5 linked regions of the Homo sapiens genome follow. Changing the gene in region 3 together with the main gene of any one other region gives a genetic interaction. Each region holds a gene or a part of one and is shown on either strand. Other genes may lie near its edges.

Region 1 (4,723 bases), on a different chromosome or scaffold from region 3:
TGATAGTCCAATATCTGGTCACATAAGAGGAAACTTCCTAAATATGTCATTTTTGTGTGAAGTGGAAATCAACTGGATGTGAATCCTTGCTCAGTTAAAAACTATTTGGAGATTTGGAGAAGGCTGTTATGAAACAGTGTTTTATTTCTTTCTTTCTTTTTTTTTTTTTTTTTGAGACGGAGTTTTGCTCTTGTCACCCAGGCTGTAGTGCAATGGCACAGTCTTGGCCCACTGCAACCTCCGCCTCTTGGGTTCAAGCGATTCCTGTGCTTCAGTCTCCCGAGTACCTGGGATTACAAGCACCCACCACCACACCTGGCTGATTTTTGTATTTTTAGTAGAGATGGAGTTTCACCACCCGTTGGCCATGCTGGTCCTGAACTCCTGACCTCAAGTGATTCACCCGCCTCAGCCTCCCAAAGTGCTGGGTGCTGGCATTACAGGCGTGAGCCACCGCACCCAGCCTTTTTTTTTTTTTTGACCGAGTTTCACTCTTGTCACCCAGGCTGGAGTGCAATGGCACCACCTCAGCTCACCGCAATCTCTGCCTCTCGGGTTCAAGCCATTCTCCTGCCTCAGCCTCCCGAGTAGCTGGGATTACAGGTGCCCACCACCAGGCCTGGCTACTTTTTGTATTTTTAGTAGAGATGGGGTTTCACCACGTTGGCCAGGCTGTCCTGAACTCCTGACCTCAGGTGATCCACCCCCTCAGCCTCCCAAAGTGCTGGGATCACAGGCATGAGACACTGCGCCCGGCCCACACCCAGCCTTTATTTCCATTTTGAAATTTTGAGGTATGTTCTTAGAGGGATAGGGTAATGCCCTACAGGCAATAAAATTAAAGCTTTTCTGTTTAGTGGTTTCACGTGCGACTTAGTTATTTCCTTGATAGAGAAGTGAATATTTAGTAAAGAGATGAAAGGGGGATGTATAGATTACTGGAGAGAAACCAGTGTTCTGTGCCGAGTCAGTTGGCTTACTTAGAGACAGGAAGCATTAATGTACCTTAAGCCTAGCTGTGATTGTTTCTGATGGGCTGTAGGTCTCCCTTCTCTCACTGGCTTTTATTATTGGTTCACCCAAAGGTTTCCAAAATGCCAGCATTCCTTCGCTCTGCCCTTCAGATTTTGTTTTCTGAAGATTCAACAAAGCTCTTTGTAGCATCAAATCAAGGAGCTCTGCATATTGTTCAGCTGTCAGGAGGAAGCTTCAAGCACCTGCATGCTTTCCAGCCTCAGTCAGGTGGGAATCTGGTAACTGGCCATGGGGAGACTTGTCGTGTCTAAGATGTAACTTTTTTGCTTTTAAGCCTCCATGTCGGGGGTTCCCTCATGTTCCTCCTACCCTGCAGATACACTCACTCACATGTTTGCTGTTTCAAGTAGGAGGAGATAGCTGGCAGATGAAGACTCTCGATGAGATCTGCAATGTTCTTCACACCTACTCTTTTCTCACTGGGTTTTTGATTCCTTATTTGGGGCCAGAGAAATTTCATCATCCTTAGTTTGTTAGCAGAACAAGAAGAAAGTTAAAGTCATTTGCAATCCTGACACCCAGAAATAGCTACCATTAATATTTTGGTATTTTCTAATATGTATTTGTATATAAGTATTTTGTGGGCATGTTGCCTTTTTTGGTTGTTTGTTCATAAAAAGGTACAATCATAGATGGCTGCCACCTCGACCTCTTGGGCTCAAGTTATCTTCCCATCTCAGCATCCTGAGTAGCTGGGACTATAGACACTCACCACTATGCCCAGCTAATTTTTTCATTTTTTTTGTAGAGACGGGGTCTCATTATGTTGACAAAGTTGGTCTTGAACTCCTGGGGTCAAGTGATCCTCCCATCCTGCCCTCCCAGCTGAGATTATAGGCATGAGCCACTGTGCCTGGCCCAAAAGTATTCTTATACATACAGTTTAATTACCTGTGTTCATATAATGTTCCTGAGAATTTTTCTGTTTTCATTGAGAATGTGAGTATTAATGAATGAGTGTGGCTATGTAGCTAGCTATGGCTAACTGTTAAGGACTTGGACTCAGTTTCCAGATTAAGCTGGTAGTTGTTTTGATACTTCCTATGGGCCTTTCACCTCTCCCTTGTCCTGGATTTTAGCTGCTGCTTCACTGTCATTTACACTCCCATCAGCCTGGAAAGTCAACTCTTTTTTTTTTTTTTTTTTTTTTTTTTTTTTGAGATGGCCTCACTCTGTTGCCGAGGCTGGAGTGCAGTGGTGCGATCATGGCTCACTGCAGCCTCACCCTCCCCAGGCTCAGAAAATCCTTCCACCTCAGCCTCCCAAGTACACAGGAGCATACCACCACACCCAGCTAAGTTTTGTATTTTTGTAGAGACAGGGTTTCACCATGTTGCCCATCCTGGTCTTAAACTCCTGGGCTGAAGCAATCCTCCTGCCTCAGCCTCCCAAAGTGCTAGGATTACAGGTGTGAGTCACCATGCCTAGTGAAAGTCAACTCTTTTATCTTCAACTCTCACTGTTCATAAGCTGATCCAGAAGCCTACAGGAGAAGAAACCCACAAGTTAGGGGTCAGATAAATCAAACTATTTATTATCTATATATGTTTTTATTACAAAACTTAGGCTATTTATCTTATATCTAGCTCTCCTTGAGATTCGACTCTACATTATGTATATGACTTTATTTTTTCCACTTCTCTCATCTCACTTCCCCTTGTAGTCAAAATGGTTTCTTCACAGCTCTCAAACCTGCATATTCTACTCCTCGTCACTTAGCTTGCACTGTTCCCCATCCTTTTTTCCTCATCCCCACCCATCCTTTGGCAGCTGGGTTATGCTTGTTATAAAGCCATGTTATCGTTTGGGGGCGTTACATGCAGCACGCATTTTGGCATAGAGCATCACTGTCCAATTTTTATCCCACACTAGTTGTCGTGTTGCCAGATTGGTTTAAAGTCTCTAGATGACAAAGATGGCTCAGACGTGCCCATCCTCCCTTAGTGCTAAATACACAGCAGGCATCCAATAAATTAAAGATATGCTTCAAGTCTATTGAACTTGCTGTTTGTCCGTAACTTTTTTTTTTATTATTAATTTATTTATTTTTGAGATAGAATTTCAAAAGACAGAGTTTCTTGTGCCCAGGCTGGAGTGCATTGGTGCCATCTCGGCTCACTGCAACCTTTGCCTCCCAGGTTCAAGTGATTCTCCTGCCTCAGCCTCCCTAGTAGCTGGGATTACAGGCACCCACAACCACGCCCAGCTATTTTTTTTTTGTACTCTTAGTAGAGATGGGGTTTCACCATCTTGGCCAGGCTGGTCTTGAACTCCTGACCTCAGGTAATCCACCTACCTCTGCCTCCCAAAGTGCTGGGATTACAGGTGTGAGCTACCACGCCTGGCCTGTCCATAATTTTGGCTTAAAAAAAATTTAGGGGCCGGGCACAGTGGCTCACACCTCCCAGCACTTTTGGAGGCCGAGGTGGGCAGATCATAAGGTCAAGAGATCGAGACCATGCTGACCAAAATGGTGAAACCCCATCTCTACTAAATATACAAAAATTAGCTGGGTGTGGTGGTGCACGCCTGTAGTCCCAGCTACTTGGGAGGCTGAGGCAGGAGAATGGCTTGAACCCGAGAGGCAGAGGTTGCAGTGAGCCGAGATTGCACCACTGCACTCCAGCCTGACAACAGAGTGAGACTCCGTCTAAAAAAAGAAAAAAGAAAGAGGCCAGGCACGGTGGCTCACGCCTGTAATCCCAGCACTTTGGGAGGCCAAGGTGGGCGGATCATCTGAGGTCAGGAGTTCAAGACCAGCCCAGCCAACATGGTGAAACCCCATCTCTACTAAAAATACAAAAATTAGCCAGGCATGGTGGTGGGTGCCTGTAATCCCAGCTAGTCAGGAGGCTGAGGCGGGTGAATCACTTGAATTTGGGAGTTGGAGGTTGGAGTGAGCGGATCCGCCACTGCACTCCAGCCCGAGTGACAGAGCTAGACTCCATCTCAAAAAAAAAAAAACAAAAAACAGAAAAAAAACCATTTGGTAGGAAAGGAGTTTGAAACAATTAAAGTATATATTTTAGTGGCAGATGCTGCCGTCATTCTCTATTCCTGTAGTAAGCAGTGTCTTAGGCCTGAGGAAGTAATAACTTCTGTTTTATCTCTCTGGACCTTCTTTACAGGCGGGATGGTTAAATAAGTAGATGAAAAAAGTAGAAACATTAACATCTAGAAGTAATTTGCACAGTGATCAGCAAATTATCCTGGCAGTGATTTAAAACTCTAATGGTCTCCTTGGCTTTTGCCATCATCTCCAGGGCAGGTCTGGCTGTGGACACTGTGTGAATTCAGAGATGTAACTGTTTTGTCCTCACAGGAACAGTGGAGGCCATGTGTCTTTTGGCAGTCAGTCCAGATGGGAATTGGCTAGCTGCATCAGGTACCAGTGCTGGAGTCCATGTCTACAACGTAAAACAGCTAAAGGTGAGCATAGGGTTTCATGGCAGCAGTTTGAATCATTGTACAGGAGCCAGTTCACCCTGCAGTTACAAGATTCAAGGCAGATTGGCATGACCTGGAAATTTATTAGACTTTTTTCTTTTTATTTTCTTTTCTTTTCTTTTTTTTTTTTTTTTGAGACAAAGTCTTACTCTGTCACCCAGGCTAGAGTGCAGTGGCGCGATCTCGGCTCACTGCAACCTCAGCCTCCCGGGTTCAAATGATTCTCCTGTCTCAGCCTCCT
Region 2 (4,723 bases), on a different chromosome or scaffold from region 3:
GACCCAGCTCACGCAGTCAGCAGAGCCCGAAGTCACACCTCCTCTGCCTACTTGGGCCCTCAGTGGATCAGATGTGGCCCACACCCACATTGGGGGAGGGCAGTAGCTTTATGCCAGTCACCAATTCAAAGAAACACCCAGAAATAAGGCTTAATTAGCTATCTGGGCATCCCTTTGCCCAGTCAAGTGGACACATAATTAACCATTACATGTAAGGTCTTGAAAACCAGGTGTCTTGGCCTCTGCCCAGATCTCCTGGTCCCAGCATCTCTAAGACTCCCACGTGATGCTAGTGTCAAGGCTCTGTAGCGTGGTGACTGAGAGCTCAGGTATGGTTCGAATCTCTCTCTGCCATTCTGAGCTGTGTGACCTTAGGCAAGTGACTGTACCACTCTGAGCTTCATTTTCTCCATCTGGAAAATGGGGATGATGATAATGATAATAATTGGATTGTTGGTAGAATTAAATGAGTTAACACAAGCAAAGTGCTTTGAGCCGTGCCTGACACATATGTTAAGTGTTAGTATTATTTTCAGGTTTGGAAGCCACTGGCATCATTCATTTATTCAGTCCACCCTTGGCAGCTATTTAAGCAGTTTGCAGAGTTTTTTATTACCTAAAAATGGTGCAGTGGCCGGGCACGGTGGCTCATGCCTGTAATCCCAGCACTTTGGGAGGCCGAGACGGGCGGATCACGAAGTCAGGAGATCGAGACCATTCTGGCTAACACGGTGAAACTCTGTCTCTACTAAACAAAAAATGCAAAAACTTAGCCGGGCCTGGTGGTGGGCACCTGTAGTCCCAGCTACTCGGGAGGCTGAGTCAGGAGAATGGTGTGAACCCGGAAGGCGGAACTTGCAGTGAACCGAGATCACACCACACCACTGCACTGGGCGACAGAGCGAGACTCTGTCTCAAAAAAAAGAAAAAAAAAAGAACAACAGTGCAGCGGTGGCTGCCAATGGTGAATTTTGAGCTGGACCTTAATACCTTAATTACATTCATCAGTGACCCCACAAGGCCTCTGAGCCTGTCCCGATGAATAAAGGAGTTCCCCCCGCTGAGGCCCTGAGCGCAGCCGAGGCCCCAGCCCAGACAGTATGTATGTGTGTTTGCAGACCAGCGGCCAGTGACGAGGAGCTCACCAGGCTGAAGAGCAAGCGGGCCCGGGTGGCCCAGATGAAGAGGACCTGGGCAGGGCAGGGGGCTTCTCTGAAGCTCGGCGACCTCATGGTGCTGCTGGGTTTGTGCCCTGCCCGTTGGAGGGTGGCGGGAGGGTCACCCAGGTCTGGGATGGGTCAGAGAGAGAGCATGCCCCCTCTTCGTTCCCCAGGCGCCGTGGGAGCCTGTGAGTATGCCAGCTGCACACCCCAGTTTTGCGAAGCCAACGGGCTGCGGTACAAAGCCATGATGGAGATCCGGCGCCTGCGGGGCCAGCTGACCACCGCAGGTACGGCCCCGTGCCGGCACGCCGCTGCACCCGGCGGGCAACCTGACCTGGGCACTTGAAATGTTTAAAAAAGTGATCCATAGAGTCCACGTTTGCAAACTTGCTACGCACCAAAATGTATTTATAACCCTAAATCAATACTTGGGGAGCTTTTCCAGGAACAAGGGAATGTGCACATGAGCAGGGCACTAACAGATTCGAGCTGCCAGCCTGCACCCTCCCCCACCAGGTCGTCGCTCGGTTTCACCTTTTCCCTGGCGATACCCCCTGCCATTTTCCATCACCGCTGTGGCCTGGACCCCTCTTCCCTCCCACATGTCCCCCAGACCCTTCTCATGCAGAAGGATGAGGCCTTGCCCTGGACTCTACCTCAGCTCAGCAGCACAAATACTTCCTGCCACCAACACCCAGGGAAGCTTGAGAGGAAGGAAATGTCCTCCAACATATGGCAAGAGGACGATGCGTAGAGAGGGCAGCGTGGACACTGGGTCTCTTCTGGGCAGGCCACGTTCTTGCACCCAAGGCTAGTGGAGAATTTGCCTTCCATTTAAGCAGATCCCAAGGTTTGATGCCAGAATTGATGGCTCTCTTCCGGCCGATCCTTCTCCCAGCGCCAGGTGCATGGTGGTGGCCCTGTCACCATGCTCTGTGTCCTTCTGGCTGTGGCTTTCCAGAGCAGCCCCATTCCAGGTGCAGCAGCTTAGAATTGCAGTCAGCCTCCAGACAGTGCTGGTTACAGTGGCTTGGTGACATTAGACCTTTATTGTTGCAAGGAAGAGAAGTCACTTGAGTCAGCAGCCCAGGGCGTTTCTCTGCTGCCATCCTCCTGCCATTCGCTGTGCCTTCCATCCTAAGGTCACCTCTTGGGCTGAGGAGGTAGTTGGAGGCTTAGTCACCTCTGCCTTCCAGGCAAGAGAAGGGAAGGATGAGGCCAGGGCACCCGCCGGCTGTCCTGTTCCCGTATTGAACGTTCCCAGGAATTCCAGCCGCAACTTCCTTCTTCACATCATGGACCAGAACTGAGTCTGAGGCCACCTGGGTGTTAGGGGAGGGCTGTCTCCTCGAAGAATGCTCTGCTGCCCAGGCAGGATGTGGGGCTTTGTCCCAAGGGAGAAGGAGGGAATGGGGGGGCGGCTGCAATCCTGCCTGCTGGGGGCTTTGGGTCCTGCTGGTGGCCTCTGGGGAGGGGTTGAGACAAGCAGGTGGCTGAGGCTAGAGCACTGAGCATGGTTGGGACTTTCTAGGAGGTCAGGGCAGAGCTGGCTCCGGGCCTTGCCACCACCGACCTCACTCTTGGTTCTCCCCTCAGTCAATGCCGTGTGCCCCGAGGCTGAGCTCTTCGTGGATCCCAAGATGCAGCCGCCCACCGAGAGCCAGGTGACCTACCTGCGACAGATCGTGACGGCAGGCCTGGGGGACCACTTGGCCCGCAGGGTCCAGAGCGAGGAGATGCTGGAGGACAAGTGGAGGAACGCCTACAAGGTGCGGCCCCCACCGCCTCCCTGCCCGGGTAGCTTGGGGCACCTGGTGAGGGGCAGGCGGGCTGGGCCCTCAGGGTCTGGGGAGGCTTGTTCCCTCTCAGCTGTGGGTCCCCACTGAGGAACAAGTGGGGCTTGCAGTAGAATCACATCTTCCTTGGTTAGTTTCTCCCAACTTTTTTTTTTTAATAACAGTTTAGTGGAGATAAAATTCACACAGCATTTAAACTCTTTTGGGGTTTTTTGTGTTTTCTAGAAACAAGGTCTCGCTCTGTTGCCCAGGATAGAGTGCAGTGGCACAATCATAGCTCACTGCAGCCTCGAATTCCCAGGCACAAATAACCTTCTCGCCACAGCCTCCTGAGTAGTTGGGACTGCAGGGGGCACACCACCACCTCCGACTAATTTTGTTGTTGTTGTTTTCTTTTTTGAGACAGAGCCTCACTCTGTTGCCCAGATTAGAGTATAGTGGTGCGAACTCAGCTCACTGCAACCTCCACCTCCTGGGTTCCAGCAATTTTCCTGCCTCAGCCTCCCAAATAGCTAGGATTACAGGTGTGTGCCACCATGCCCAGCTAATTTTTGTATTTTTAGTAGAGAAGGGGTTTCACCATTTTGGCCAGGCTGGTCTTGAACTCCTGGCCTCAAGTGATCTGCCCACCTCGGCCTCCCAAAACGCTGGGCTTACAAGCAGTGTTACCCAGGCTAGTCTTGAACTCCTGGCCTCTAGGAATCCTTCCACCTTGGCCTCCCAAAGTGTTAGGATGACAAGTGTGACCCACTGCATCTGGCCTGCATTTAAACCCATTTAAAGTGTTCAATTCAGTGGGTTTTAGTATTTTCACAGAGTTTTGCAACCATTATCATAGTTAACTTTAGAACATTTTTATTACCCAACAAAGAAACCCCACATATGTAAGCTGTGAGTCCCCAGTTCCCCGTCACCCCCGTTTTCATGATCCTGCTTTCCATCTGTGGATCTGCCTGTTCTGGACATTTGGCATGAGTGGAATCTTAACATACATGGCTTTTCATGTCTGGCCTCTTGCACTTAGTGTGATGCTTTCAAGCCCCATCCACGCCATGGCAGGTGTCGGTGCTTCCTTTTTTTTTTTTTTTTGAGAAGGAGTTTTGCTCTTATTGCCCAAGCCGGAGTGCAATGGCGTGATCTCAGCTCACTGCAACCTCCACCTCCCGGGTTCAAGCAATTCTCCTGCCTCAGCCTCCCAAGTAGCTGGGATTACAGGTGTGTGCCACCATGCCCAGTTAATTTTTTGTATTTTTAGTAGAAATGGGGTTTCACCAACATGGTGAAACCAGCCAGGCTGGTCTCGAACTCTTGACCTCAGATGATCCACCCTCCTCGGCCTCCCAGAGTGTTGGGATTACAGGCGTGAGCCATTGCACCCGGCACTTCCTTCCTTTTCACGGCTGGATCAGACTCCAGCGTGTGGATGGGCCGCATTTCCCGGCAGATGGAGCACTCTCCCACTTTTGCGGCTGGAGTGGATAATCAGATTCTTCTCCTGGGTTGAAAGTATGCGGAGCCCCTGGGCATGGGTTCTTCCCTGACCACATCACTCTCCATTCTCTGCAGACCCCTCTCCTCGACGACCCTGTCTTCATCCACCCCAGCTCCGTCCTTTTCAAAGAGCTCCCCGAGTTTGTGGTCTACCAGGAAATCGTGGAGACCACTAAGATGTACATGAAAGGTGCCGAGGCCTGCGGACAGCCCCTTGTCCCCCGATGGTGACGCTAATGGGGGTGTGGCTGGGACCCTGGGGCAGAGGCATGG
Region 3 (3,898 bases):
AGCTATTTTTCTGAAATCTCAATATTTGTAGAAAAAAGCTTTCATACGTTCCTAAACAACGAGATATCCTTTCCATCAGAGGGTTTCATTGCTTTTGAAAACCTCAATCAATAAATCCATAAATCTCAGGAACAATGTTATATATGTGGCTTTGTAGACGGCAATTGCTTAAATGAATTGAGCAAATATGGACTATTCATTTTATTAACTGGAATGTCTGCAGTAGAAAAATGGCATTTTCTATAGGAAATGGACAGTGGCTATAAAAACTGTCACTCAAAATTTGTATTTGTATATAATTATGTACTCAAAATTTTAAAAAATTAATATTTCTTTTAAAGTTCACATAATTGAATGAATTTGGGTCAGACATTTCCATTCAAATTATGATTCAAACCATAAGATAGATAGATAGATAGATAGATAGATAGATAGATTTTTTTTTTTTTTTTTTTTTTTTTTTTTGAGACGGAGTCTTACTCCATCACCCAGGCTGGAGTGCAGTGGCCCAATCTCAGCTCACTGAAAACTTTGCCTCCTGGGTTCAAGTGATTCTCCTGCCTCAGCCTCCCAAGTAGCTGGGATTACAGGTGTGTACCACCACCTGGCTAATTTTTGTACTTTTAGTGGAGACGGGGTTTCACCATGTTGGCCAGGCTGGTCTCGAACTCCTGACCTCAGGTGATCCACCCGCCTCGGCCTCCCAAAGTGCTGGGATTACAGGCATGAGCCACCACGCCTGGCCATAAGATATATTTCATAGCAAAAAGTATATCCTTGTTTTTTACCCTAAATACTTTTTTGTTTTTTGAGACAGAATCTCGCTGTCACCAGGCTGGAGTGCAGTGGCGTGATCTCGGCTCACTGCAACCTCCGTCTCCCAGGTTCAAATGATTCTCCTGCCTCAGCCTCCCAAGTAGCTGGGATTACAAGCACGCACCACCACGCCCAGCTAATTTTGGTATTTTTTAGTAGAGATGGGATTTCATCATGTTGGCCAGGATGGTCTCGATCTCCTGATGCACCTGCCTCAGCCTCCCAAAGTGCTGGGATTACAGGCATGAGCCACCACACCCAGCCATACACATTCTTTAATATTCAGAAATAGGTTTCATTTTTAGAATATATGCACAATACATTTTAAAGGAATAATTTATTCCAAGATGAATTATTTGGCTCCAACATAAAACTGAGCAATGGTTAGTTGTTTACAGAAATTTGAAGAATTTTTTTGCTGCAATAAATGAGAACATCAACCATAATCAAAGATGGCAGATATTTAAACTATTTTATTTAAACTGGAAAAAGATATACATATTTCTTGGATAATAAATAGTCATTTAATTATGTTTTTTCAAAATAAGCACAGGTTTTTTTAAAAAGCAAATTCAACCAGCAAAATAAAACATTTATTTTGCAACTGTCCTTTTTTTCCTACTTAATAAAATATTGAAAAAGAATGAGTCCCTTTAAATTCTTCAGTAACTTGTACATTTAGAATGAGCTGGTCCAAAAAAAAGAAGCTGTATTTATTATACAAATGCAGGAAAAGCTACTGCTAAAACCTGCATCACCACCATAAGAAGTCTTGGCTTCTTGGTGAAGTCAAGGTGGTCTCTACTAAGCTGAGACTACTGCCTTAGTTCACTGCCTTCTCTTTTAAAACCTAATCATCACCTAATACAACATTTTTGAATGGTCCTTAAGTTTAATGTAGATGGGATTGTGAAGCACTGATTGTAAATTTCTATAGCATATCATTTTATTAGCATTTAAGGACCGATGCTTAGTATAAGGTATTAAAAAAATACCAAGGAAGTAAATTTAACAACAGGTCATAACAAGCCATATACTATTTATATAGCACTCCCCTTTTTAAAAAACAATATCCTTCCCCACTTAATTACAAACATAATGCTTTTCTTAAGCGGTCATAACAGTAAATGTTTTCAAATGGTATGTGATTCACCATACCGCCTATGTCAACTAAACTAAAATGACTTAAAATATTTAAAAATCGTTAACTTACACAAAACTCTATCCTGATACCAACAGAAATGTTATCCTTTCTATTCAAATTTATCCATAAGGAATGTTTCATCAGTATTATCTCTAAATAACTATCTTTAAATATAACAATGCATAGACTAATCTTGCAAACAGCCAAAAGACACATTTATAGAGGCTGTTAACATTTTAAGCCTGCAATGGTGCAAACAGTGCTCTACATATAGTAATACTAATAAAAAATAAAAGTATAATAACTAGCAACAAGTCCTCATTCTTATGAAGTGGTGTACTAGGAGGCTTGGGAAACTCACTTAGAGAAGGGAAATAATTATACCAAGTATTTCATCCCCTTTGCCTGACATACTTTAAAATCTAGGGCTAGGCATTAGAGAAAGAAACCTGCTGCCCCCAGCATTCTTCTGAATGTAATATGGGGGAGGGAGGAAGCAATGACTAGGGAGTCTCAAGGACTTTCAATTCTGCTATTACTCTGCTCTAACTAGTATGACTCCTATGTATCTCTTTCCTGTGCTTCAGTATTTCATAGATAAAGAACATCCTTTCCAAGTAATAGGGACCCACACACATTTAACCTGTTCTACTTCATCTTCTTCATAATTTTGACATTTTCTCAATGCTAATTTGAAAAAGGGGCTATTGGAAGGTGAGGATAGGTTTTGGTTTTTTTGGAGGACGAACTCTCGTTTTGTCACCCAGACTGAAATGCAGCGGTTGATCACATGGTTCACTGTAGCCTCGACCTCCCAGGCCCAATCCTCCTGCCTCAGCTGGCAGTAGTAGCTGGGATCACAGGTGTGTACCACCACACCTGGCTAATTTTTTTTTTTTTTTTTGGTAGACATGGCGTCTCCCTATGTGGCCCTGGCTCGTCTTTAATTCCTGGGCTCAAGTGATCCTCCCGCCTCAGCTTCCTAAAGTGCTGGGATCACGGGCATGGGCCACCACATCTGGTCTATAACGTAGGTTTTGAAGTCAGGCTGGGTTTGAATGTCACCTCTGCTACTAGCTAAGTGGCTTCCACAGGTTATTTAATCTATCTGCACTTCAGTGTTTGCCATCCATAATATGGGAATATATGCCATCACCTTTGCTGTGTTGTTGTAATAATTAACCAGTACATCATGTGCCTAGCATATATGTGCTAAAAAAGTACTAGTCCTTAAAACGATGCTCTATAAATCTGGGACATAATGGTAACCAGAGCTGGCTAAGGTATATATGTGTGTGAATATAAGAATAGTTTCCAGCTAAATAAAGTAAATAACATGGTAGAAGTGATGCTCTCACCATTGCATTTTTCTTTGCCGCTTGTCTTTTTAATCTTCTTCCTTCCCGTCGACTGTCTTTCTTTAAAGCAACTGCAATTTCTTCCCTTACTTCCTCACTGTCTGTTGCTATAATTTGCCCATTGTGAACCATCTGTGAATTCTGTCTTAGGTATTCCATGAATCCATTCACATCTTCATTTAAGTACTCTTTTTTCTTTTTGTTCTTTTTATGTTTTGCTTGGGGTGCATCATTTTTGAGGGATAGCCTATTGGCTTCAAGTTGTTTACGCTTTGGTAGGTTTTGGCTTGTTCCCTCAAAGGATCCCTTCTTCATGTCCTCCCATGATGTTGCAGGCAAGGGTCTCTTGTTATATGTGGTACTAACTCGGGCCCACCTGGTCATAATTTCATCAGTGGTACCTTATCAATTTTTAAGACAAGCATGGGTGGTTAGCCATCAACAACAAAAACAACAAAACTAAAGAGACATGCTATATCACTATATGTCACATATGCCCATATGTTAAACTTTTAATTATTAAAACACTTTTTATTTCAGTTAGATATCTGTATACATATTTAATGCTATAATATGCTGC
Region 4 (4,723 bases), on a different chromosome or scaffold from region 3:
TAACTAAAAAAGAAGCCACATCAGTAACATTATGACTTGATAAAATTTTGTCAAAAATGGAAATGACCTAACATAATTGATTCAATAAACTATGGTCCATCAGAACAGTGGAATATTATGTAGCAATTTTAAGTGTTTGTCATGGCAAATGCAAACATCATATAAGTAATAAAATGAAAATGTTTTAAAGTACACTCTGAGCCAGGCACAGTGGCTCATGCCTATAATCCCAGCACTTTGGGAGGCTGAGGTGGGCAGATCACCTGAGCTCAGGAGTTCGAGACCAGCCTGGGCAACATGGCAAAACCCTGTCTCTATTTAAATTATTTAAAAAATAAAGTACACTGTGATGGCAACTGTGTGAAAACATAAACATTTGTTTATTAATTGATCCAATAATTTAAGCATGTGCTATATTTAATAATCAGGATATTCAGTACTAACTGAAACAGAAACAGCTTCTGACCTAATAGAGTGTTAGGAAAAGGTAGATAACCTTATTCCAAGACAATAGGGTTTAACTTTGTAGTGGTCTCATGTTCATCGTGAGGTTTTATTTTATTTTATTTTATTTTATTTATTTTTTTGAGATGGAGTTTTGCTCTTGTTGCCCAGTCTGGAGTGCAGTGGCACAATCTTGGCTCACTGCAACCTCTGTCTCTTGGATTCAAGCAATTCTCCTGCCTCAGCCTCCCAAGTAGCTGGGATTACAGGTGCCTGCCACCACACCCAGCTAATTTTTGTATTTTTAGTAGAGACGGGGTTTCACCATATTTCCAGGCTAGTCTCGAACTCCTGACCTCAGGTGATTCATCCTAAGGATTTAATGAAAGCTACTTATCCCTAGGGGGAAAATGCACCTATGCAAAGTAATATACAAGGTGATATGTACAAACAAAGGTTATTTTGTTAAGGAGGTTATATTGAGCTGAATGCTTCTCCCAAATAGTCCTGCGTCCTGCTTTTTCTGTCTGGCAGCATGAGTAGATCTGTTTCTTCTTTGACTGGACAACCCTTCAAATATGTGAAATATGTAATCATGTCTCTTTACATGGGATAAATATCCTTCATTCTATTAAGTGTTCTTGGTGCATTTTTTCCCCCATACTTATTTCTGTCTTTATCATCCTCTTTTGGACACACCATTGTCTGTCAGTGTCCACTAAAGTCTTGTCCAAACTAAACACATCTTGGCTGGGCACAGTGGCTCACACTTGTAATCCCAGCACTTTGGGAAGCCAAAGCAGAAGAATTGCTTGAGGCCAGGAGTTTGAGACCAGCCTGGGCAACATAGTGAGACAACTATCTCTACAAAAAAAATTTAAAAATTATCAGGCATGGTGGCACATGCCTGTAGTCCCAGCTACTCAAGAGGCTGAGGTGGCAGAATTATTTGAGCCCGAGATTCAGGCTGCAATGAACTGTAATCACACCTCTGCACTCCAACTTGGGCGACAGAGCAAGACCCTGTCTCAAAAAATGTAATAATAAGGAAAAACAACATGTCCCACATATTGTGTAGCCACTTAGGCACTATGTTTGTCAGGGCTGCCATAACAGACTAGGTGGATTAAACAACAGAAATGTATTTATTTTCTCAGTCTTGAAGGCTGAAAGTCAAAGAACAAGGTGGCAGCAAGGTTGGTCTCTTTTTGTTTGTTTGTTTGTTTTTTGAGGCAGAGTTTCGCTCTTGTTGCCCAGGCTAGAGTGCAATGACGCAATCTCTGCTCACTGCAGCCTCCGCCTCCCAGGCTCGAGTGATTCTCCTGCCTCAGCCTCTGGGTAGCTGGGATTACAGGTGTGCACCACCACATCCGGCTAATTTTTTTTTTTTTTGTATTTTTAGTAGAGGTGGGGTTTTGCCATGTTGGCCAGGCTGGTCTTGAACTCCTGACTTCATGTGATCGCCTGCCTCGGCCTCCCAAAGTGCTGGGATTACAGGCGTGAACCACCGCACCCGGCCTAAGGTTGGTCTCTTCTGAGGCTTTTCTCCTTGGCTTGCATAGGGCCACCTTCTCCCTGTTTTCTCACGTGGTCTTTCCTCTGTGTGTGGGAGTCCCTGGTGTCTCTTTGTGAATCCAAATTTCCTCTTATAAGGACACTAGTAAGATTGGATTACGGCTCACCCTAATGGCCTCAATTTAAATTAATCACTTCTTTAAAGGCCCTGTCTCCAAATACAGTCACATTCTGAGGTACTGGAGTTTAAGGTTTTAACATACAAATTTGGGGGCAGAGATTCTCCCCATAACTGGCTCCGTATCTTTGGGTTGCGGTAATGGGAATATGGAAGGACTTAACTTCTTTTTTTTTACTGTTCAGTGTAAAAATTAATACACAGGAATAAATCAGTTTTTTTTTTTTTCTTTTAGCCAAAATCTGAAGATGAAGAAGGCTGGAAGAAATTTTGTCTGGGTGAAAAGTTATGTGCTGACGGGGCTGTTGGACCAGCCACAAATGAAAGTCCTGGAATAGATTATGTACAAGTAAGGGCTGTGTGGATAAACAGAACAAAAAGCATTTTAATTTTGGTGCACCACTTAATATAAGGGGTCAGCAAACTCTACCCTGGGCCAAGTCCAGTTCATGGCCTTTTTTATATCCATGAGCTAAGGATTGTTTTTAGGTTTTGAAAGAGTAAAAAAGAAACAAATAATATGTGGCTGAGACTTTATGTGGCCTGCAAAGCCTAAAATATTTGCTGTCTGACTCTTGATAGAAAATGTTTGCCAACCCAGACTTAGTTTATTAGCTCTTCAACCTAACAAAACAGCTTAGTTTCTGAAACAATTTACTGTGACTTTTTTTAGTTTGGCTTCATATCCCTTATGTTTGGCTTGGTAATCATTTTATGAGTTGGATAAGATTCATAGTTTTTTTAAATGATGAGGCATCAGGCAAACAGTGTTATGAGTAGCCAGGGAAAAAATGGAAATCGACACAATTAGATGCTTTAAAATGCATAATCACATCTATCACTTCATGGGCCTGTAAAAAATAAATCACATATTCTAAAGATGAAATGTTGAGGATATCTTTAAAATTCATGTGGCTGTAATCATAAGTTATGTAGACAACTCCTTGTCCTTCAGGATTTACCTGCCCCCAAGTTTGCAGGTGTTCCTTGAGAATCCAGTGCATGCCTCTGCATTAGCGCTTACTCCCTATAGCATGTAGTTCTTTTCAGTTCAACAGGTATTTATTATTTGCTATATGGTGCCACATTGTGTTTTTCACATTTAAAACTAATTTTTCCTAAAAATGTAAAAAGCCCCAAGAATCAATAAAAAGACCAAGAATCACCCCTCCCCTGCCCAAGAAAAAATAGCCAAAGGATATAGATACCTCACAGAAAGGAAATAAAATTATTCTTATATGACAAGATGCCAAAAATCACTTGTAATAGAAGTATAACATAACTATGCCAAGGTGCTATTTTTCAGGTAACATATTGGCCAAGAAAGTTTGATACACCATATTGACAAGAGCTGGGGAAACAAGCACTCTTAGACGTGGTACAGGAGTATAAATAGACTCAAATCTTAGGGAAGTTAATTTGGTACTCTTTCTATATAACCAATTGATCTTTTGGATGATATCCTTAACATATGCTACATTTCAAAAATAGCTATATATATATATATATATATATTTTTTTTTTTTTTTTTTTTTTTTTTTTTTGAGACAGGGTCTTCTTCCGTCATCCAGGCTGGAGTGCAGTAGTGCACTCATAGCTCATTACAGCTTCAACCTCCTGGGCTCAAGCAATCCTCCCACGTCAGCCTTCAACATACCAGGGGCAGCAGGCACCCACCACCACACCCAGCTAATTTTTAAATTTTTTGTAGCGATAAGTTTTTTAATTTTTTAAAAAAATTTTTTTGTAGAGAGAAGTTTTCACCATGTTGCAAGGTTGGCCTGAAACTCCTGGGCTCAGGCAATCCTCCTGCTGGGATTATAGGCATGAGCTATCATGGCTAGCCAAAAATGGTTTTTAATTTATAAAGAATTAAAACTTACTTATTTAGCTTATTTTCAGAGAATACATACAAGTAAAATACACCATGTTAAAAAAAACCCTTAAGGAAGTAAGCGTTTAATGTATATCCTCTTAAGTTTCTCACAAATCAGTGGTATTTTCATAATTAGCAATCACAGCCTCAGACTCCAAAGTAGACTTTTAAAAATTGAATCAAATTAGGTTTTAAAAATGTCATTCTAATTCAAGTGTCCTTAATTCTTGAAAATATTAGCTTTAGCTGAAGATTTTGAAATGGTGTATACAACATATTAATGTCATCTTATCAATGTTACAGTTTTATTGGATATACTTAATAAGTTAGTTTTTTCAAGTACTATCATGTAAAAAATTTTTAGTCTTTAACATTTTACTTACTAAAATCATACTTTATTTAAAAATTTACAAATTCAGACCAGGTGAGGTGGCTCATGCCTGTAATCACAGCACTTTGGGAGGCTCTGGCAGGTAGATCACTTGAGCTCAGGAGTTCCAGACCAACCTGGGCAACATGGCAAAACCTCATCTCTACCAAAAATACAAAAAAATTAGCTGGGCGTGTTGACATGCACCTGTGGTCCTAGCTACTCGTGAGGCTGAGGTGGGAGCATCACCTGAGCCCAGGAAGCAGAGGTTGCAGTGAGCCAAGATCGCGCCACTACACTCCAGCCTGGGTGACAGAGTGAGACCCCATCTAAAAAAAAA
Region 5 (4,723 bases), on a different chromosome or scaffold from region 3:
ACTAATATTAATGCCAAGGAATATATTGTAAATAAACCTGAGAAAACCCAAATTCCTAAATATGACCGTAGTATTTTTTTCTCCTGCAATATGTAATAATAGCACTTACCTTACAGAGTGGTTGTGAGAAGTAAATGCGATTAAGTTTTAAGTAGAATCATGTAGCTGGGTTGAACTTCGGGACTAAAGGCTGACCCAATAGTAGCTACCTGTCCATGCATCCTGGCCTCTTACTGAGTGTGATTCCAATTTATGTCACAATAAGATTAAAAAATGACTCAAGGCATGAAACTTTTAGATTATTCAAAATGGCTGAAACTGTAAAAGTTAATTTTTCTAATGTCAAGGAACAACTGAATTTGCAATGATTTGGGCCAAAAAAGAATTAGTTGTCAAACTGCACTCATAAGTTATGTTACATACATATACTTATGGAAGAGTCTCTTGCCAGACATTACCTTGAACGTATGGAAAGCTGTTAAGGAGATACTAACCTTTTGCATGTATCATTTTTTGAAGGGTCCTGAAATAAAAAAAAAAAAAAATTCAAAAATAACAAACAAAAAGAAAGAAGATTAACATAGCACATGTACATTTTCTTGATCAAGCTATGTCAACCCTGTAACTGATACCAGAACTTCATCTTTCATGCATTTTGGTGTTTACAAATATATAAGCAATGGATAGACTGGGAATTTTATTTCTGATAACATACTGGCACTTCACTAGGTTCCTTCCTAGTGAAGAATCACTAATGAAAGCATAGAAATGACCTAAACTTTTTTAGATGTTAAAAAATGTTAATGATACAAACTATATTGAAATGGACTACTCTGTGGTCATGATGATGTACCTGGTTCAGCTGGGCTTGCCACTGGCAATAGCTAACATCACACTTTCTAAAAACATTTTTTAAAGTCCAAAAAGCTCTTCTAACATGTAGATCAACTGTGAAATGCTCTAGATCATACAGATGATTGCTTGTAGATCACAAAAATATACTGGTTCACTCCTTGAAATCATAATAATTATGACAGGAGACCTTAGAATTGATTTCACAATGAAAAGAGAAAAAATGGAGTCAAGGGAAAGAAAATGATAAAATAATCTTAAAAAACAAATCTTGGCAATAAAAAGTACTGAAGTATTGATATATGCTACAAACTTCACAGCATTATCCTAAGTGAAAGAAAGCAGACACAAAAGACTACATATTATATAAATCTGTTTACATAAAATGTTCACAACAGGACAATCAATAGAGTTAGAAGTAGATTAGTAGTGGTTGCCTAGGGCTGGTGTGAGGAGGACGAGTTGTGGGGAAATGGAAAACGACTGCTAATGAATATGGGGTTTCTTCTTGGAGTGAGGAAATTGTTCTAAAATAGACTGCACAGTTCTGTAAATACACTAAAAACCATTGATTTGTACATTTTAAATAGGTAAACTGTATGGTATGTGAATTGTATCACGATAAAGCTGTTATTACAATTTTTTTACTCAATTCAAGTATCAAACGAGTTATTGATTCCATTAACCAGCTGTATAGTACAAAAGGCCTGCTAACTTACTGCCAGAGGACAATAACCCTTTAGCATAGGTTGCTGCTGCCCAAAATACCATCTTTGCAAAATGTAGAAGTATATCAGGGTATGAACATGGAATATTAGCTCTGCTTAACCACCGTTTTCAATAATCTCCAAGAATTTCCAGAAACCAATCACATTGGCCCCAATATACTTTAGAGCAGTCCATGAAATGAGTTTTAATTTCATATATCCAAAACACTGTCATGCAAATGAATACATGCCCCAAACCTGAAAGAAATTAGTCTGTAGGCAAGAAAAATGGCAAACGAAAGGTTTTAAAGAAACCATATTAACATACTTCTATACTTCTTTAAGACTTTAATGATTATCATTATCTGGGACATTTCAACTAGTCTAGTAAGGATCCGATTAATTAAAATGAGTTACAAGTCAATCTTTGAAAAATACAACAAATGTTACTATCTACAGATTCGGAAGGTAGGAGTGGTAGCGATGGTAGTATGTGCATCAAGTTAATTTATAATGCTGCCTTTTAAAATAAATATTCCACTACAGTAACCGAGAAATAATTGAATTCCATCAAGAAAATGTTCATGGTCTTTTATGCTTTAGCTACATAAATACCAATGATTTATAGACAAAAAATGTAGTTACTATTTTTAAAAGGGATAATTTGAAAGGCTTATATGAGAGCATCACAGCATAATATATGTATTATGATGTTTAATCTATAATTAGAGTAAAAATCATATACTTCATATAAATGGATTCTCTAAATTTCAAAGCTTTTAGCCTCTTTTACAATCAAAAGCCCTGGATCTCTGCTAAGTAGGGTGAGCCTTAGAAAAAGGTAATAAGCAACTGAAGAAGAAAGAGAACAAAGACAGCCAAAACCGTACTATGCTGAAATGTAAAAATTTCTAAACAATAAATAACTTAAAACATATGGTGTTCTTTGAACTAAGTACTGCAAAATGTGCCTGTTTTAAGATCAATCCATCCCTGGGGACGCAAAAAAAAGACCAACCTGTCTAACCCATTAAAGGAAAGAGAAGAGAAAGAGGCATACACTCCCTTTAGGATACTGATAGCCAAGTAGATGCAAACCATAGTGACCCCACTTTTAATCAAATACATAATAATCAAAGAGATGTTGAAGGCACAGCTCTTAGCAGCCAGGACTCTCAGCCAAATTTGGAAATAAACCAAATCGCTTGTTTTTAAACTGAAATGAAAAAAGTTCTATTAACACATAACCTCCCTTCACCTCCACCCTTCCCCTAGGCACAGTTCCCCCCAGTCTTCATTTCCACAGCTAAGCACTAGACTAAAGCTAATGGATGCTTAAGTGAAAAGCTTACAGTTTATAGTTGACTTTAATTTATCCCTTCAGGTATTGAGGCATATCTAGCTGGTTATGTCCATGCCCAGATTTTAATGCTCTCAATCTTTGGCCTGGAAAGTAATAATTGCAATACTATGATTTTAGTTACAAGTGGTGAATCAAATCCAAAGTTCTTCCAGCATAACCCCTACCAAGCAATTAATATGCATGCTTCTTTTTCTTCGAAAAGCTTAGAATACACTGGCAAACAACAAAATTGCTGTGAGTTTTGGTATTATAGGTTCTAAAACAAATTGCTGTTAAGTCTACTCTGACTTTAGCTCAAAACTCATGGAAATTAACTGTTTAAATAAAACTGGTTCCTCAAGTTCAAGGTTCATTAAGGCTTTAATTCCCCACTAAAATAAATAAGTAGGGCTGGGCACCTTGGTTCACATCTGGTGAATCCCAACACTGGGAAGGCTGAGGCAGGAGGATCACCTGAGCCCAGGAGTTCAAGGCTATAGTGAGCTAGGATTGTGCCACTGTACTCCAGCCTGGAGGACAGATCAAGACCCTGTCTCAAAAATAAATAAATATATTTATATACATATAAACACAAAAGACGGACTTTTTAGGGAAAAAGGAAATATTTTGTAATACCTGAATAGAATATTTATAAAGCTGCTCAAAATTAAAATTATATCTAATATCTTCAAGCCCAATGTTATAAATCAGTTTCCTCGTTTGTAAAACGAAAAGCTCAGATCAATGTGAATTCTAAAGTCATATTCAATTATCTCAACACAATTTTCTGAGCCAAGGACATTGTGGTGAAACCTAGAGCAGCAGGCTTCTAAAGGGTAGAGAGAAGAAAACACCATTCTCTTATGTCTAGGAAGACTGAAGAAGCACTACCGTAAGTAGATTTTTCTCTCTTCCACCAGCTACATAGAGGAGTAATTTCCCAGATCCTTGTCGCACCATAAGCACTGACCCAATTTGATAAGATTAAGAGAATGACAAAAAGGCCAGTCGCGGTGGCTCATGCCTGTAATCCCAGGCATGAATTACATGAGAGGCCAAGGTGGGCGGATCACGAGGTCAGGAGATCAAGATCATCCTGGCCAACATGGTGAAACCCCATCTCTACTAAAAATACAAAAATTAGCTGGGCATGGCAGTGTGTGCCTGTAATCCCAGCTACTCAGGAGGCTGAGGCAGAAGAATCGCTTGAACCCGGGAGGCAGAGGTTGCAGTGAGCCGAGATCACACCGTTGCACTCCAGCCTGGTGACAAGAGTGAGATTTCGTCCCCCCACCAAAAAAAAAAAAAAAAAAAGAGAACAACAAAGAAATGTCTCAACTGGCAACCACATAGAAAGGATGTGGGGGTCAATGGGTGTGGATTTCACGATGAACTTTGTTTATGAGAAAACATGAGAGAAGAGCACACACTTAAGGAATGGAGTGTACTTTGTCATCAGGACATAAATGTAGGAAAGAATGAACCAGAATCATGATTATGACGCATTACGACAGACAGGGAAGCCGGGTGCAGTGGCTCATGCCTATAATCCCAGCACTTGGGGAGGCCGAGACAGGCGGATCATGAGGTCAGGAGCTCGAGACCATCCTGGCTAACAGGGTGAAACCCCATCTCTACTAAAACTACAAAAAAATTAGCTGGGTGTGGTGGCACACACCTGTAGTCCCAGCTACTTGAGAGGCTGAGGCAGGAGAATCACTTGAACCCAAGAGGCGGAGGTTGCAGTGAACCAAGATCGTGCCACTGCACTCCAGCCTGGGCAACAGAGTGACACTCTGTCTCAAAAACAAAACAAAACAAA

The links.
Region 1: changes in ZCCHC9 (region 3) and UTP4 together harm fitness more than expected from each alone (negative genetic interaction), as found in Homo sapiens cells (one large-scale study listed by BioGRID).
Region 2: changes in ZCCHC9 (region 3) and DHX37 together harm fitness more than expected from each alone (negative genetic interaction), as found in Homo sapiens cells (one large-scale study listed by BioGRID).
Region 4: changes in ZCCHC9 (region 3) and GEMIN2 together harm fitness less than expected from each alone (positive genetic interaction), as found in Homo sapiens cells (one large-scale study listed by BioGRID).
Region 5: changes in ZCCHC9 (region 3) and CYB5B together harm fitness more than expected from each alone (negative genetic interaction), as found in Homo sapiens cells (one large-scale study listed by BioGRID).

Annotation. Positions count from the first base shown.
Region 1 is NC_000016.10:69,155,999-69,160,721, forward strand, and holds part of UTP4 (U3 small nucleolar RNA-associated protein 4 homolog), read left to right. Parts: intron 1-1,085; coding exon 1,086-1,242; intron 1,243-4,357; coding exon 4,358-4,464; intron 4,465-4,723. UniProt on the Homo sapiens protein: Ribosome biogenesis factor. Involved in nucleolar processing of pre-18S ribosomal RNA. Part of the small subunit (SSU) processome, first precursor of the small eukaryotic ribosomal subunit.
Region 2 is NC_000012.12:124,950,607-124,955,329, reverse strand, and holds part of DHX37 (probable ATP-dependent RNA helicase DHX37), read left to right. Parts: intron 1-1,118; coding exon 1,119-1,243; intron 1,244-1,333; coding exon 1,334-1,450; intron 1,451-2,359; coding exon of another isoform or gene 2,360-2,379; exon of another isoform or gene 2,380-2,516; intron 2,517-2,759; coding exon 2,760-2,932; intron 2,933-4,525; coding exon 4,526-4,640; coding exon of another isoform or gene 4,641-4,677; intron 4,678-4,723. UniProt on the Homo sapiens protein: ATP-binding RNA helicase that plays a role in maturation of the small ribosomal subunit in ribosome biogenesis. Required for the release of the U3 snoRNP from pre-ribosomal particles.
Region 3 is NC_000005.10:81,304,562-81,308,459, reverse strand, and holds part of ZCCHC9 (zinc finger CCHC domain-containing protein 9), read right to left. Parts: intron 3,720-3,898; 5' UTR 3,703-3,719; coding exon 3,319-3,702; intron 1-3,318. UniProt on the Homo sapiens protein: May down-regulate transcription mediated by NF-kappa-B and the serum response element.
Region 4 is NC_000014.9:39,120,058-39,124,780, forward strand, and holds part of GEMIN2 (gem-associated protein 2), read left to right. Parts: intron 1-2,372; coding exon 2,373-2,486; intron 2,487-4,723. UniProt on the Homo sapiens protein: The SMN complex catalyzes the assembly of small nuclear ribonucleoproteins (snRNPs), the building blocks of the spliceosome, and thereby plays an important role in the splicing of cellular pre-mRNAs.
Region 5 is NC_000016.10:69,454,893-69,459,615, reverse strand, and holds part of CYB5B (cytochrome b5 type B), read right to left. Parts: intron 524-4,723; coding exon 495-523; intron 1-494. UniProt on the Homo sapiens protein: Cytochrome b5 is a membrane-bound hemoprotein functioning as an electron carrier for several membrane-bound oxygenases.